2 linked regions of the Homo sapiens genome follow. The protein of the gene in region 2 interacts with the protein of the main gene of each other region in a pairwise test. Each region holds a gene or a part of one and is shown on either strand. Other genes may lie near its edges.

Region 1 (7,000 bases), on a different chromosome or scaffold from region 2:
AGGCAATCTCTGCGCAGAAGGAAGGTAGGGAACCGTCTCAGGACCCTGGAAATGTCCGGGATTTTGTAGACTCGTTTAGGGGGAAAAAACTAATCCAGCTGATATAAAAATCCCCAGCTAGTGCTCGCCCCAGAAACCATCAACAGGTCTGGTTAAAAACTGTTAGAGCCCGGCTTGGTGGCGCGCACCTGTGGTCCCAGCTACTCGGGAGGTTGAGGCGGGAGGATCGCTTGAGCCCAGGTGTTCGAGGCTGCGGTGAGCTACGATGGCGCCACTGCACTCCAGCCTGGGTGGCATAGCGAGACTTCGCTCTATAAAACACGTTGTAAGGAGCGTATTTTGAGGTCCTGTGGCTCCAAAGCGGGCATCCTATGGGGCCCGCCCAACCTCTCCACCGCCAGTAGGGCACGCGCTGGTCCCTTTAAATGTTCCCTTCGGGAGCCGAGGGACCGGTCCTTTTAGAGCGCGTCCGTCCAGAAACGCGGCTGCAGAAAGAGGGTTCCGGGGCCTCCGAGTCTACTGGTTGGCCTGGCAACGCCGCGTGCTCTTCCCAAGGGGAGGACGCGGGAGAAGCCGGGGCCTGAGTGCTCCAAGGCCCCGTGGGCTTCTTGGGTTTGTTGCCTCCGGCCGCTCATTAACTCAGGATGGCGTGGAAGACCTCGCCCGCCTCCCCTTCTGGGCCGCGGCTCCGCTTAGGTGAAGGCCTGTTTGGGCGTCCCCACCCTGGAGAGGGGCCGGGGTCTGGATTTTCAGAACTGCCACTCTTCTAGTGGTAAATGGATAACGAGCATTTGTAGGGTCTTTTATGATGTTTATCAGTAAATCAATTTGATGACGTAAATACTTCCACAAGCGCTTGTTAGGCACCTCACCGGGTTTGAATCACACACCTGCCTTTCTTAGTGGGGATTATTCCTCCCATTTGCCTTCAGGGTTAATTTTCTAAAGGGATTGGGACTGAAACCTAGCTCTTTTGGGGCCATTTGGCACTTTTCTCACTTAAGGACTAAAGAACTCTGACATTTGGAGTATTACAACCTGAAAGAGTTACCTATGAAAAAACAACACCTTATCCAAAATAGGAAGAGGATCACAATTACTAACTACAAAATTTGGGATTATAGTAGTGCTGGCTATTATCTCATTTAATCCTGAGGATGGCCCAGTTTGCTATCCCTATTTGTAGGATACAGTGAAGGGTGGAGTCTGACCCTGAGCCTAGCACAACTCTGAGATAAAATTCCACCCTGCCTTCCGGGTCCTGTTAGTGCCTTTTTTCCAGTGGAGAGGGACGGCTTGTTCTTTGGCCACAGCTTGACTGGCTTTTCTTTATACAAGCAAAGCCCAGCGTTACGTTTGCTTAACTAACGGCGTTCCTCTTTCCCCAGCGCTGGCGTCAATGCTCCCTTCCTCGGGCCATTGGAGACTCCGTTGCTTTTTAATGGCGGCAGCGGCTGCTGGGTGAGCAGCTGGAGGCCGGACAGTGTTCGTCCCATCCGGAGAGGATCGCTTTCTCCTGGCGTCACCAGCGCTGGGTTGGTGGGGGTAGCTTTTCCCTCTTTGCTCCTCCATTCTTGAAGAAAGAAGAAGATGCCACTGCCATTTGGGTTGAAACTGAAACGCACCCGGCGCTACACGGTGTCCAGCAAGAGTTGCCTGGTTGCCCGGATCCAACTGCTTAATAACGAGTTTGTGGAGTTCACCCTGTCCGTGGAGAGCACTGGCCAGGAAAGCCTCGAGGCCGTGGCCCAGAGGCTGGAGCTGCGGGAGGTAAGCCACCTAAAGACACTGCAGGCCAGGCGCGGGTGGCTCAAGCCTGTAATCCCAGCACTTTGAGAGGCCGAGGCTGGTGGATCACCTGAGGTCAGGAGTTCGAGCCTAGCCTGGCCAACATGGTGAAACCCTGTCTCTACTAAAAATACAAGGCCGGGCGCAGTGGCTCACACCTGTAATCCCAGCACTTTGGGAGGCCGAGGCGGGCGAATCACAAGGTCAGGAGTTCGAGACCAGCCTGGCCAATATGGTGAAACCCCATGTCTACTAAAAATACAAAAATTAGCCGGACGTGGTGGTGGGCGCCTGTAGGGTGTGGTGGCGGGCACCTGTCATCCTACCTACTCGGGAGGCTGAGACAGGAGAATCGCTTGAATGTGGGAGGCAGAGGCTGCAGTGAGCCGAGATCGCTCCACTGCACTCCAGCCTGGGCTACAGAGCGAGACACCTGCTCAAAAAAAAAAAAAAATTGGCTGGGCGTGGTGGTGGGTGCCTGTAATCGCAGCTACTGGGGAGGCTGAGGCAGGAGAATCACTTGTACCCAGGAGGTGGAGGTTGCAGTGAGCTGAGATCACAGCACTGCACTCCAGCCTGGGCAACAAACTCTGTCTCAAAAAAAATTAAAAATAAATAAAAAAAACACGACAGGCTTCTCTGGCCCGCATGCTGGCTGTGTGTTCTAGCCCACGGGCCACTCACTGTGTGTCCCTGGCTGGGATGTCTGAGTTGAGCCTGTAGTCCCCTCCTCATGAAGCAGGAATAGATTAGATTAAGAAGTCTCCCCTTGGGGTGCCCTATAAGAACTAATGGTTCTTATTTTGAATATGTTTATATTCCCCCTCTAAGGTAATCCAGAATCAAATGTGAATACACTTTGGGTTGTTCAAATTTCCATTTTCTAATATACCCCCAAAGGTCATCCTGATCTCTAGTACAGTTTACTGACTTCATTCTTTCTTTTTTGTTCATTTTAATTTTTTTAGAGTCAAGGTAGGTCTAGCTATGTTGCCCAGGTTGGTCTCAAATTCCTAGGCTCAAGCGATCCTCCCGCGATAGGCATGTGCCACCATGTCCGGCTCTTGACTTCGTTCTTTCAACATTCATTGAGTAAAATTCATTGACTATATTCTTACAGGCCAGATCGAGGTTCTAGAAACATACTGCCTGAACTCAGTTTGAGTTCTAGTTTCCTCACCATCTGCTTCTGTTACCTTGGGCAAGTTATGTGATATCTCTGAGCCCCAGTTCTCCATCTGAACCATGGGGATGACTGTGACACCTAATTCTCAGAGTAGCATAAGGTTGTAAGCTCTGCTAACTAGTCTATTAGAGTACCGATTGGGAGGTTTGCCCAGGAAACCCCTAATCTAGTTGGTAGGAAGTTATGGAGTACTCATGTATCCATATAATGTCTTAAATTTAAAATGTTATGCAAGGCCTGTGAAGAAAGGTCTCTAATTAAACCTAGGACCCTCCCTACCTTTGGCTACCTGGTTCTTGGGTAAGGGAAAGTTAGAGAAACTGGTTATTCCACCTAAAAAGTCAGGAATAGATGAACTTTGCTCCTGGTGACCATCCAATCACTTATATGATCACTCAGTACTGAAGATGCGTAAGTGCCAAGCACATACATACTTGGAAGCTCACCCTAGTGTTGTTGCCAGTAAGAAAACAGGCATGATGCATGCTGTGATAAGGGAAGTAGAGGGTGTGCTATAGGCCAGAGGGAGGTGCAGCAAAGGGAAGGCTGCTCAGGGAATTTGATTCTGAGCTGTGACCTGAGGATGGGGCAAGGGAGTCCTATCAAGGGCTGGAGGAGTTCCAACAAAGAGAACTGCACAGGACCAAAGACGCAGAGGAAGCTGGTCTGCCTGAAGCCTGAAGTGCGTGGAGGAAAGGCCGACTGTAAGGGCCACACAATGAGGATTTTTTGTTAAAGGATTTAGATTTATCCTGAGGGTAGTGGGGAAGTTAATGAAGGGTGTAAACAGGTGTGGTACGATTGTTTCTGTGAAGAGTGAGCCCTTTGGAGAATGATTTGAGGGGAGTGGTTCAGGTACAGATGGTAGCCACCTGGAGTTGGATAGGGTTGGAGAGAGGTGGTTGGAATCTGGATCAGGACCTACCGAGTAATAGAGAAGGGTTAGCATGGGTCCTGGTTGATATTCAGGTTTTCAGTAGATGGTGGGGCTATAACAGAGAGGAAATGTGAAAGGAAGTGCAGATCTATTAGGGGCAAGGAGGAGCGTGTGGTGAGTTCAGTTTTAGAAATACTGAGTTTGAGGTGCCAGTTGGAGGTTTTGAATAGACAGATGGATCTGCTGATCTGGAGTTCAGGCATGAGATCCAGGTTAGAGGGAAGATATTGGGAAGTATCAGCCTAAGTGAGTTCATTAAAGCCAGAAGATGGTATGAGGCTCTCCAGGGGAGAAAAAGAGGACATCGCAGACCCCTCATGGTAGATTAGAGGAGGGGAAAGTGTTGGAAGGAAACTGAGATGAAACTGCCGAAGAAGAAGAAAGAAAACCAGAACAGCAGGCCTCAGTAACCAGTCCCTGCTTACTTGCATTTATTCTTTTTTAGGGATGAGGTCTCACTCCATCACCCAGGCTGGAGTACAGTGGCACCGTCATAGCTCAATGCATCCTCAAACACCTAGGCTCAAGTGATCCTTTTGCCTTAGCCTGCCAAGAGCTGGGACTACAGGTACACTCCACCACACCCAGCTAATTTTTTTTTTAACTTGTGTTTTTGAGATGGAGTCTTGCTATGTCGCCCAGGCTGGTCTGGGAGTTGTTTCCTCTAGTTATCTTCCTGCCTCAACTTTGTGAGTAGGTGGGATTACAGGCGTGTGCCACCTTGCCTGGCTTAGTGGCTTATATTCTATTTATTTATTTATTTATTTACTTTGGTTGCTTCGACTTTTTTTTTTTTTTTCCTATTATGGTTTCTTCTTCCTGTAATTTTCTTCCTCGTGCACCAGGTCTGTCTATAACGCCTAGAGAGTCAGCTTCTTGAGGAACTGTGGTTTATTTATTTTTATACCAGGTGTGGAATGTGTTCAGTAAATACAGGGAGAACTGAACCCACAGGCATTGCCTTCCTTCTGTTAATAAGTCCAGAGAAATTGCCATCCCTTGTTAGAAGTTATCAGTCTCAGGGAACAAGTAACTTTATATAGCTGTGGGTATATTTTGAGCCTGATTTTTAACAGAAGAGGAAACAGGCATGGTCCCTAGAAAATGTTTTGCCTGTGGAGAGTCTGTCCCACAATTTCCAACATAAATGTAACAGTCATGGGTAGAAAGTTTGTATAGCAAACTTTTTCTTTGAAAGCCCCAGAAGCTCTGCTCTGTAGCATATAAACAGATGGCTCAGGCATCAGGCCTAATCTTAACAAATGACTGTTCAGAAATAATCTGAGTGGGGTCACACCTGTTTCTAGTTTGTACATATAGTCTCTGTGTGATTCATACCAAGAAATATCAGTATGTTGGTTTCTTGCACTGTTCTCCCACCAAGCAAATCTGGAATTATCGCATATAGATTTGGGTGGAAAACTTTGCTACTGTCCAAATATAAATGGAGGGAAAAGTCCCTCTTGCTTAATTGAATACCATTTCACTTCTATAATGACAATTTTTTTTTTTTTTTTTTTTGAGATGGAGTTTCACTCTTTTGCCCAGGCTGGAGTACAATGGCGCGATCTCGGTTCACTGCAACCTCTGCCTCCCGGGTCCAAGCGATTCTCCTGCCTTAGCCTCCCCAGTAGCTGGGATTACAGGTGCCTACCACCATGCCCGGCTAATTTTTGTATTTTTGTATTTTTTTTTTTTTTAAGTAGAGATGGGGTTTTATCATGTTGGCCAGGCTGGTCTTGAACTCCTGACCTCAGGTGATCTGTCCACCTTGGCCTCCCAAAGTGCTGGGATTACAGGAGTGAGCCAACGTGCCCGGGCCTATAATGACAGTTACAAGGGCCGCACAATAGTATAACACTATACCCAGGGGTTTCAGCTATATCAGTAGTGTTTCTTACACTGGGTATATGGGTATTTTTTTTGTTTGTATTTTTAGCTGTCATATTTTTACAAGTGTCTAAGATATTTTGTATTAAATTAAAAGCAACGTGGTTAATATACATGTATCCAATGTAGTTAACTTAGGTTGCTAACTTTCTTTTAAATTCACCATATTTGAACTACAGAAAGTAACTTCTTTTTTTTTTTTTTTTTTTTTATTTGAGACAGAGTCTCGCTCTATCGCCCAGGCTGGAGTGCAGTGGCGCGATCTCGGCTCACTGCAACCTCCGTCTCCCAGGTTCATGCCATTCTCCTGTCTCAGTCTCCCAGGTTCATGCCATTCTTCTGTCTCAGCCTCCCAAGTAACTGGGACTATAGGCGCATGCCACCACGCCCGGCTAATTTTGTATTTTTAGTAGAGATGGGGTTTCACCGTGTTAGCCAGGATGGTCTCGATCTCCTGACCTCATGATCCGTCTGCCTCGGTCTCCCAAAGTGCTGGGATTACAGGCGTGAGCCAAAGTAACTTTTAAAAATGGGAAAATGAATTATTCCCTTAGGAAAATATTGCTGTTCGTTATAGCAGTAGTTTCTCAAAGCTGTTGAAATTCCCTGCCTATCATTCTTCTGAGTTTCAAAACATTTTTTCAAGAGAGGCTGTGAGTCCTTGTGGAATTTAAGGGGAGCTAGAAAATTTTCTCCAATTTTAAAAGCATATGCTGTAGAGGCTTGAAGGAGGTGGTGACACAAGTGGCCACCTGGGCATGGGCACTGCCTGGGGCATCACCTTGACGGAATCAGCACAATCCAGAGTGCAAGAGTCAGGCTCAAAAATCTCATGTCATGGGAAGACCTGATTTAATCTAGCTCGCTAAAAATGATGTGTAAAACCAGGACCCAAGTTTAGTAATTTATAAGCAGTAAGGAACTGCCAAGGGTCCCAGGTATGTGTGCCCTCTGCCTAGGCCAAGATTTTCCTATAGTTAGGGCACATGGGAACCAGAACAAACCAGAAGTTTCTTGGTGAACATGGAATCAGAAGAATGTTACCTTGAAAAAGTAGATATTTTCATAAGTCGGCCAGGCGCGGTGGCTCACGCGTGTAATCCCAGCACTTTGGGAGGCCGAGGTGGGCAGATCACCTGAGGTCAGGAGTTCAAGACCAGCCTGGCCTGGCCAACATGGTGAAACCCCATCTCTACTAA
Region 2 (7,831 bases):
TATAACTAAAACTTACTAATGAGGAAAATGTGTGTGTGTGTGTGTGTGTGTGTGTATGTGCGTGTATGCATGCGTAAGTTTAAACACCAAGAATCAATATAAAGTGAAATCATGAGGTATACAATATTAATTCTCTGGCACTTTAAGCATTTTCAAACTTCCCCTCCCCTCCCCAATGAATTATGTAAAGTCATTTCATAAACACAAAACTCTAAGACTTTTAAATCACTCACATGTTAATGACTTCATCCATAAAATACATCTAGATTCTATCTTTATTTCCTGTACACTTTAGACTGTTATCCATCATCATATAAATGGAAAAACAAAAACATCTTATAAATCTATTTCAAGATCAACCAAGTAGCTACTGAGTGCCTACTTCATTAATTCAGCAAGCATTCATTAAGTACTTGCTATGCATGTATAAAACAGTAGTTAACAGCTATACAACACAGGAACATAAAAACATAACCCACACACTAATAACTGAGCACCGCACAGACAATTATTCACAAAAGGACTACAATCCAAGGGGGATACTCCAAGGAAGGGGACTAGACCTGAAGCTAGAAAGTGCTTGTGTTGGGGTGGGGAGACATGGAGCAGAATGCATGAGCCTGATCTACCTAAAAGGAGAAAACTCAATTCCTGATTGCTGCTCCCCACCCCTGTTCTGACAATTCTTATTGTAGGCCAGGCCAAACAGGCCAAAATTACAGTCACCCTTGATGACTCCCCTTTCTCTTGCATGTCACATCCTTCACAATCCCATCTCTCAGGAAAACCTGTTGATTCTACCTCCAAAATATAGCTGGAGGGGGACCCCCCCCCCCGGCTCCCCGACCACCACCTCTGTTGTCTCCACTCTGGTCCAGGCCACCAGCATCTCTCACCTGGATTACTGGAGTATTTCCTACTAGCTCCCTGCTTCCATCCACCTTTGACTGCCACACGCCATTCTATTCTCATTGCTCTGGACTAAGTCTGTTAATATGTCCAGTTGGATGTCATACCTTGGCTCAAAATCCTGTAATTGCTTCCATCTGACTCGGGCTTTCATTCCAAGTCCTAACAGTGACCTGCAAAGCCTTGCAAATCTGACTTTCCATGACCTCATCTCCTAGGATCCTCTTAACTTCAACCACCTGGCCTTGCTGTTCCTCAACCTGCCTGGCACATGTCCACCCCAGGGCCTTACTTTAGCTAAACCCTCTGCCTGAAAAGCTCTCCCCCGAGATACCTGCTTGGACGACTCTCCTGACTCCAGAGTGATTCAGGTCTCTGCTTAAATCTCACTTTCTCAATGAGACCTACTTTGAGCACTCTTACTAGTACTTCATCCTGCCTCCCATGCCCTCTTTCCCTGCTCTACTGTTTTCTCCTAGCACATACCAAACTCCAACATACATCAAAACTTACCTCCTGTGTTTGTTTTTCATTGAGTGTCTCCACCCTGCTAGACTGCAAGCTCCACAAGGGTGGGGATCTTTGTTTTGGCCACTGATGCAACACTAGCATCTTGAATAGTGCCTGGACGATGATGGGTACATACGTATTTGTTGAATAAAATCTAGTTTATCTTTTAGAGGGTCCTATGAATAAATCTAATGATTTTATCTCCCCTTCCTTCACTGTCCCCTTACCTGCTAAATAACAATTTATTTAGCAGAAGAGGAAAGTCAAATCACAGTGACAGATAAGTCATAAGAAAAGGTACAGAAATGACAAGTGAACTAAAACTCATTCAAATTAAAGTTTAATCAAGCTATAAGATCAATATCAGAGGCTGGGCACGGTGGCTCACACCTGTAATCCCAGCACTTTGGAAGGCCAAGGTGGGTAGATTGCTTGAGGTCAGGAGTTCAAGACCAGCCTGGCCAATATAGTGAAACCCCGTCTCTACTAAAAAAAATAAAAAAGTTAGCCAAGCATGGTGGCACATGCCTGTAATCCCAGTTACTCGGGCGGCTGAGGCAGGAGAATCATTTGAACTCGCGAGGCAGAGGTTGCAGTGAGCCGAGATCGCATCACTGCACTGCAGCCTAGGTGACAGAGCAAGACTCCATCTTTAAAAAACTGTCATAATTTATCTCTTTGGTAGTCCTATTAATTTGGGTCAGAGAGAAGTCGCTCCAGCTGTCTACCATACCACAGCTTCAGAACACCCGGGAACCCTCACCAGGCAGCAGCAGGCCAGGTATTAATCACTTTTACATTCGAAGTTCCTAGTGAGGTAAGCCTGCAATGCGTGATTGCTGATCTGAACTAAACGTGCATAAATGTTCTTTCACATCAACTGATAAGGGCTTTTCATGCTCCCGTAAAACAGTCACATAAGTAGACAGAGAACACTATTAAAATCAGCCTGAAACAATGTCTAAAAGTTTCCTGGATACTTAAGACTACTCTTATTTTTTTAAAAAAGTCAACTAACAAAATAGTACCTAGGAAATAATGAACCTCACTTTTACAGATGAGGAAACTGAAGCTCAGAAACATTAAGTGATCTGCACCAGAACACGTGATTTGGGTTAGAGGGGAGCCAGGAGGAGACAGTTTACATACACTCTTCAATGTGAACAACAACAAACGATTGACTCCAAACAACATCTACATTTATCCCAGTTGCCATTACTTCCGGTGTGCAATACAGGGCGAACTGATTAAAGCAGATATTTAATTGCTAGACTGAAGACTCCTTGAGCTTTTGTACTTTTGCCTACAATTCTGGTGGCAATAGGTTGCCAGGAGGGATGATAAGATTACTGGAATTGTCCTTCAAAGGAGAGCGCCCTTAATTTTTTTTTTTTTTTTAAAGAGACAAGGTCTCACTGTGTTGCTCTGGCTGGATTTGAACTCTTGGGCTCAAGTGATTCTCCTCCCTCAGCCTCTCAAGTAGCTGGTATTAAAGCCATGTGCCACCATGCCTGGTTGTCATCTCCTTTTAAATTCACCCATCTATTTTTCAAAAATAAACATTTAGTGACTAGCTACTATGAACTATAACATTTAATTCTCATGCTGACCTCGTGAGGAAGTGCCCCCACTTGGCCAAAGATAAGTGAGCGTTACGCAGGTTAAAATAGCTTGTCCAAAACTCCTCCATGCCCACACACTGGCCCTCCAGAGCCCATGCTGGTCCCGACAGGCCAGCTCCCACTGCGATGAGGCTCTGCACCCACGGCTTCTTGGCTTGGCATGCTGCCCCTTCACTGGCACAGCTTCCTCAGCAGACCCAGCTCAGTCCCACCCCTTGGTGCAACTCCTGGGGCAGACTGGCCCATCCACCAGGCTCTCAGAATCCTGGCACAAGGAACTGCCGAGGCTGGCTGACCTGTCTCTGTAGCTAGTCAAATAACTCACTTAAGACCAGAGGCCTACCCAGCCCTCCTGCAGACACCGGCAGAGCGGCCAGATTCTAGTCTGTGTTGTATAAATATGAGACATGATACACGTCTGCCTTCCGGATATAATCTTGTCAAACAGAGCTCAGCATTACTCTGCCACTTTATAATCCTTTAGTTAATGATACAGAGCTTCAAAAATATATGGCAAATTAAATCTAACTTGATATTTAAACTTTGATTTAAAAATACATGGGGTAATACAATAATAGTTTTTTATTCAGCCCAAAGAGAAGGAACATATTAAATAGTTCAAGGGAAGTGTTTGTAAGTGAATCACAGAACTTCTCACTTGTTTGGGTTCTGGCATTATGCTTAGAAGTCCTAAGATGGCCAGACAGGACAACATTGCTGAACAAGGAAACCTCATAGGCTCCCTGAGTTACTGGGAGGAGGGTGGGAGTGCAGGTCCTCTGCCTCCCTTCGGTCCCACTGTGGTCGGCATGACTCTGAAGGCTATGTGGCTCAAAAAAGAAGTCTGAGAAACCCCTGACGGTGTGGTATGAGCGGTGCCCACACCCAGTTTCGTGCCCAAGACTGTCCTTGGGCAGTCACATTTATATTTTAACCAAGGAACTGAGTCGTGTATTTCGAAAGCACCAACGGTCACCTTATTTTCACTAAGAAAACACAAACTGGGGCAAAGGGTAAGCCCCAGACCTGTTCTCTTTTTAGAGACATGAGGTCTTTTTAGAGAACAGCTGGGGGTAAATGCAGGGGAGAGGAGAAATGGGTTCAACTAAAGATGGAGTGAAAACAAAAAGAATGAACAGCCTCAATTTCTAGCCCAGAGGTTTCAAAAATAAGGATGAATTTGCAAACAGCCCCAACTTCTTAGAGCTTTTCTCTGTATTCCTGGCACCACCCTTTCAGGGCTATTTTTAGCTACAGGAGAATGGGGAGCAGACAGGGAAGGGTCTCCGTGTGGCCCAGCCTTACCTTGTGTGCCCTGCTGGGACTCCAGCTATCTTTAATTAATGTCTGAAGGACATCAGGCCAACTCTACTAGTGGTAAAAGGAAGCACAATGGTGAAATTCTACCCAGCAAGACTGACAGGCCCACTACTGGTATACCATTCCTGAGGTCCTGGGGCTTTTATTGAAAAAAGGCTCCATCTGGAACATTTAGAGAGCGATGAAGTAGAGTCTGTATATTTAAGAGTACAGAAAACAGGACTGCCTATTTACTTATCTAGTCCTGCCTCCCTGCTTCACACAGCCCAAATCGACAAATCAATTTAACACTATTTTACACCTTTTCTCTAGAAGAAAGACATTTCACTTAAAGGAACTCCCTCTAGCCATTTTTATTTAGTCCAAATTCCTAAACAAGGATGAAACCAGTATTTCTCATAATCTTTTACAGTCTTCCTTTTAGCAATAGTCGCAAGAGGTAAACCTAAATCTTTTAAACCTCAACTTGCTGCCACCTAGATTTAGCTTTATTAAATATTAGAGATTGATCATATCTTTGGAAACAAAACTGAATATGCCAAGAAACTAATAATAAAATATATTCCTCAGTACTACCCAAACTCCTCAACATCAACACTATAAAGGTATACTGCAGACAGGCATGATAAGGAGGGAGAAGATAAAATGCTATCACTTAAGAAAAAAAAAATCAAGACCACAGGGGTTACATGTCAGTGACAAACATCTGCACACTGCCTAGTCAGGGATTGATGAGCTACCTATGAACAAAGAACTTAAAGGACTCCTATTAGGTCAAAGCAAAACACAAATAAAATTCCAATAGATTCTGAATTCCCATCTAATGTACCGCAGACTACAGCAAACTACCGTCTTTCTTCGCTCAACTCCATTAACCTAAATAGTTAGACTCCATCCGTTGATGAAAAAAAATCAAAATTCCAGAATTCTCTTTTGGCTGAAGGAAGTATATCGCTTTCTTCACTTCTGCAGAAAGTATGTACACTAAAACCATTATTAGTTTAAAGAATGGGTTCAGTATTTAGTATAGTCAGGAAAATTTCAGCCCACCAACATTTAAGAGTATTTGAGTTTTCCACCCTCATTTTGCAGCTGGGTTCTCACCAGGATGGCCTCAGACATCCATCCCGTAACCAATGTGTTTTCTGAATGGGACATAAAGGCACACTGCAAGAGATGCTCACGCTACTGAAATGTCACTCAGGTTGAGTGCTTGGGAAATTCAGCAAAGAAGAATCTAGCAGGACTTGCTTCCCCCTTCCCAGTTTTTATTAATTAAGCCTATATGGGAAGGAGGAGGTGCAATGAGATGACCAAGTAAAAATAAAGCTATCAGGAAACTATATTAAAATATAATAATTTGCTGGAGAAACTTACGATGGGGTTGATAGTTAAACTGCAGCCAGCAGTTTAACACAGCACTGTCCAATAGAACTTTCAGCACTGATGGAAAAGTTCTATCATTTCTGTTGACCAATATTCAGTTCCTTAGTCACATTAGCCATATTTCAAGTGTGTAACAGTTGGGGTTGGGGAGGTGACGGAATTGAGATGCTCTTTACAACCACAAGTCCTGAATACGCTCAGAAAGCTTTTATCCTGGCTTATGATGTTTGTCTCATCTATACTCCTAAAAATGGCCTACACTAGCATCCTTGATAAACACTGGTTATAGGCAAATGCTTTTAGCCTTATGTATCGCACACTGTCACTTTAAATGGTAGTATTTTCTAAAGATGTGTCATCCAGGGACACAGGTTCACTGTACATTACACACCAAGGTTACAGCAGAAACAAACTATACTGAATATCAACTGCTGTTCTTTCCAAAGTTCCTAGAGATTATGTTTAGTGCTCTTGAATCTGTTAAGCCACATAAAATGATACTGGTTTTAATGAAGGAAGTTTTTCAAATCCCAAGTGACTAGAGACAAATCCAGTTCTATAATTTAAAAAAGATAAACTAGGCCGGGCATGGTGGTTCACGCTTGTAATCCCAGCACTTCGGGAGGCTGAGCTGGAAGGATTGCTTGAGCCCAAGAGTTAGAGACAAGCCTGGGCAACATAGCAAGACACCTGTCTCTACAAAATAAATAAAGAAGTAAATAAGCTATATATTTTTTGTTTTGGACACAGGGTCTTGCTCTGTCACCCAAGCTGGAGGGCAATGGTTCAATTATGCCTCACTGCAACCTCAAATTAACTCCTAGCCTCAAGCAATCCTCCAGCCTCAGCCTCCCTAGTAGCTAGGACTATAGGTATGAGCCACCATGCCACGCTAACTTCTTTATTTTTTGTAGACAAGGGAGTCTCCCTATGTTGCCCAGGCTGGTCTCGAACTCCTGGCCTTAAGGCAATCCTCCTGCCTCGACCTCCCAAAATGCTGGGATTACAGGCGTGACCCTGGCCATAACCAGATGGTTTAATAGACTAAGTAGACCATTGCTGTAAACTCAAAATAGATATTAGAACACACACCATACCTTTTCTAATATATAATTTCAAAAGCAGGCCATTTGACAAAGCCTGAGTGCATGGTGTGATTGACAGTGAATGAACTGATGCCAACCTAAAGTAGACAGACACCAGCGGCCCAGCACACATGTCCAAGTGTCTGTACTTGGTTCCATCCTTTCAACTGTTCACCAGTAATTTGCACAAACTCACAGAAATGTGTAAAAGGGCAGCCAGCATAGGTCCAGAATGATGTAACACAATGGAATTTAAATGCTAAATCCCTCCATTAAAGGCTCACAAAGGCAGTTCCACCAACACCAGTCAAAAAAGTCAAAGATTCATAACAATTTATGTTTTAAAAAAAGGCATAGGTAATGTAAATACAGGTTTAATACAGGCCAACAGCAATATGATTGCACAAAAAACGAATTCAATATTAGACTGCATTTACAAATCGCAAATTGCCAAGAAAGTTACTACTGTCTACTAAAATTAGTACTGATGTCCAGGGTACTCCCTTTCAGCGGCAGCAACAAGACTGAAAACGTTTGATCATTCTCCCAGCAAGCCCCTTCCCCCATAGGAGTCAGAAGACCAGTCACGCATTTGGAAGGGGAAGGAGAGAAGCAGAGAGGAAGGAAGCGAGACTGCTGTCTCCAAATGTCTGAAGGCGGTCCCAGGGAACAGAAAGACAATCAAGGGAGGCAAACTTCAGTTCAATACAAGAAAAGACATGCCAGAGATCAGGGTTGCTCATAAACGGACTGGCCCACCAGAAAGGCAGTGAGCACTTCACCAGTAAAGGCCAGACCCGCTGAGGAAACAGGGACAGTAGGTTTCCCTGCTCAGGAGTAGGTTTCCCTGCCCAGCCGCCCCTACACTGGACTTTCACAGGCAAGACTGCCTCCCTAACTCCCACACCTCCCCATTCTCTCAATCAAGGCATTATATGAGAATGCACATTAGTAAGAAATGTTAAGACAAGCACTACTGCTATATATTTTTTTAATTTG

The links. Proteins that work in one complex are often made in the same cells at the same time.
Region 1: the proteins of SNX18 (region 2) and PTPN21 interact in binary tests that used the Homo sapiens proteins (3 or more experiments, as listed by UniProt).

Annotation. Positions count from the first base shown.
Region 1 is NC_000014.9:88,545,008-88,552,007, reverse strand, and holds part of PTPN21 (tyrosine-protein phosphatase non-receptor type 21), read left to right. Parts: intron 1-455; exon of another isoform or gene 456-772; intron 773-1,388; 5' UTR 1,389-1,590; coding exon 1,591-1,770; intron 1,771-7,000.
Region 2 is NC_000005.10:54,520,364-54,528,194, reverse strand, and holds part of SNX18 (sorting nexin-18), read right to left. Parts: exon of another isoform or gene 7,149-7,831; intron 1-7,148.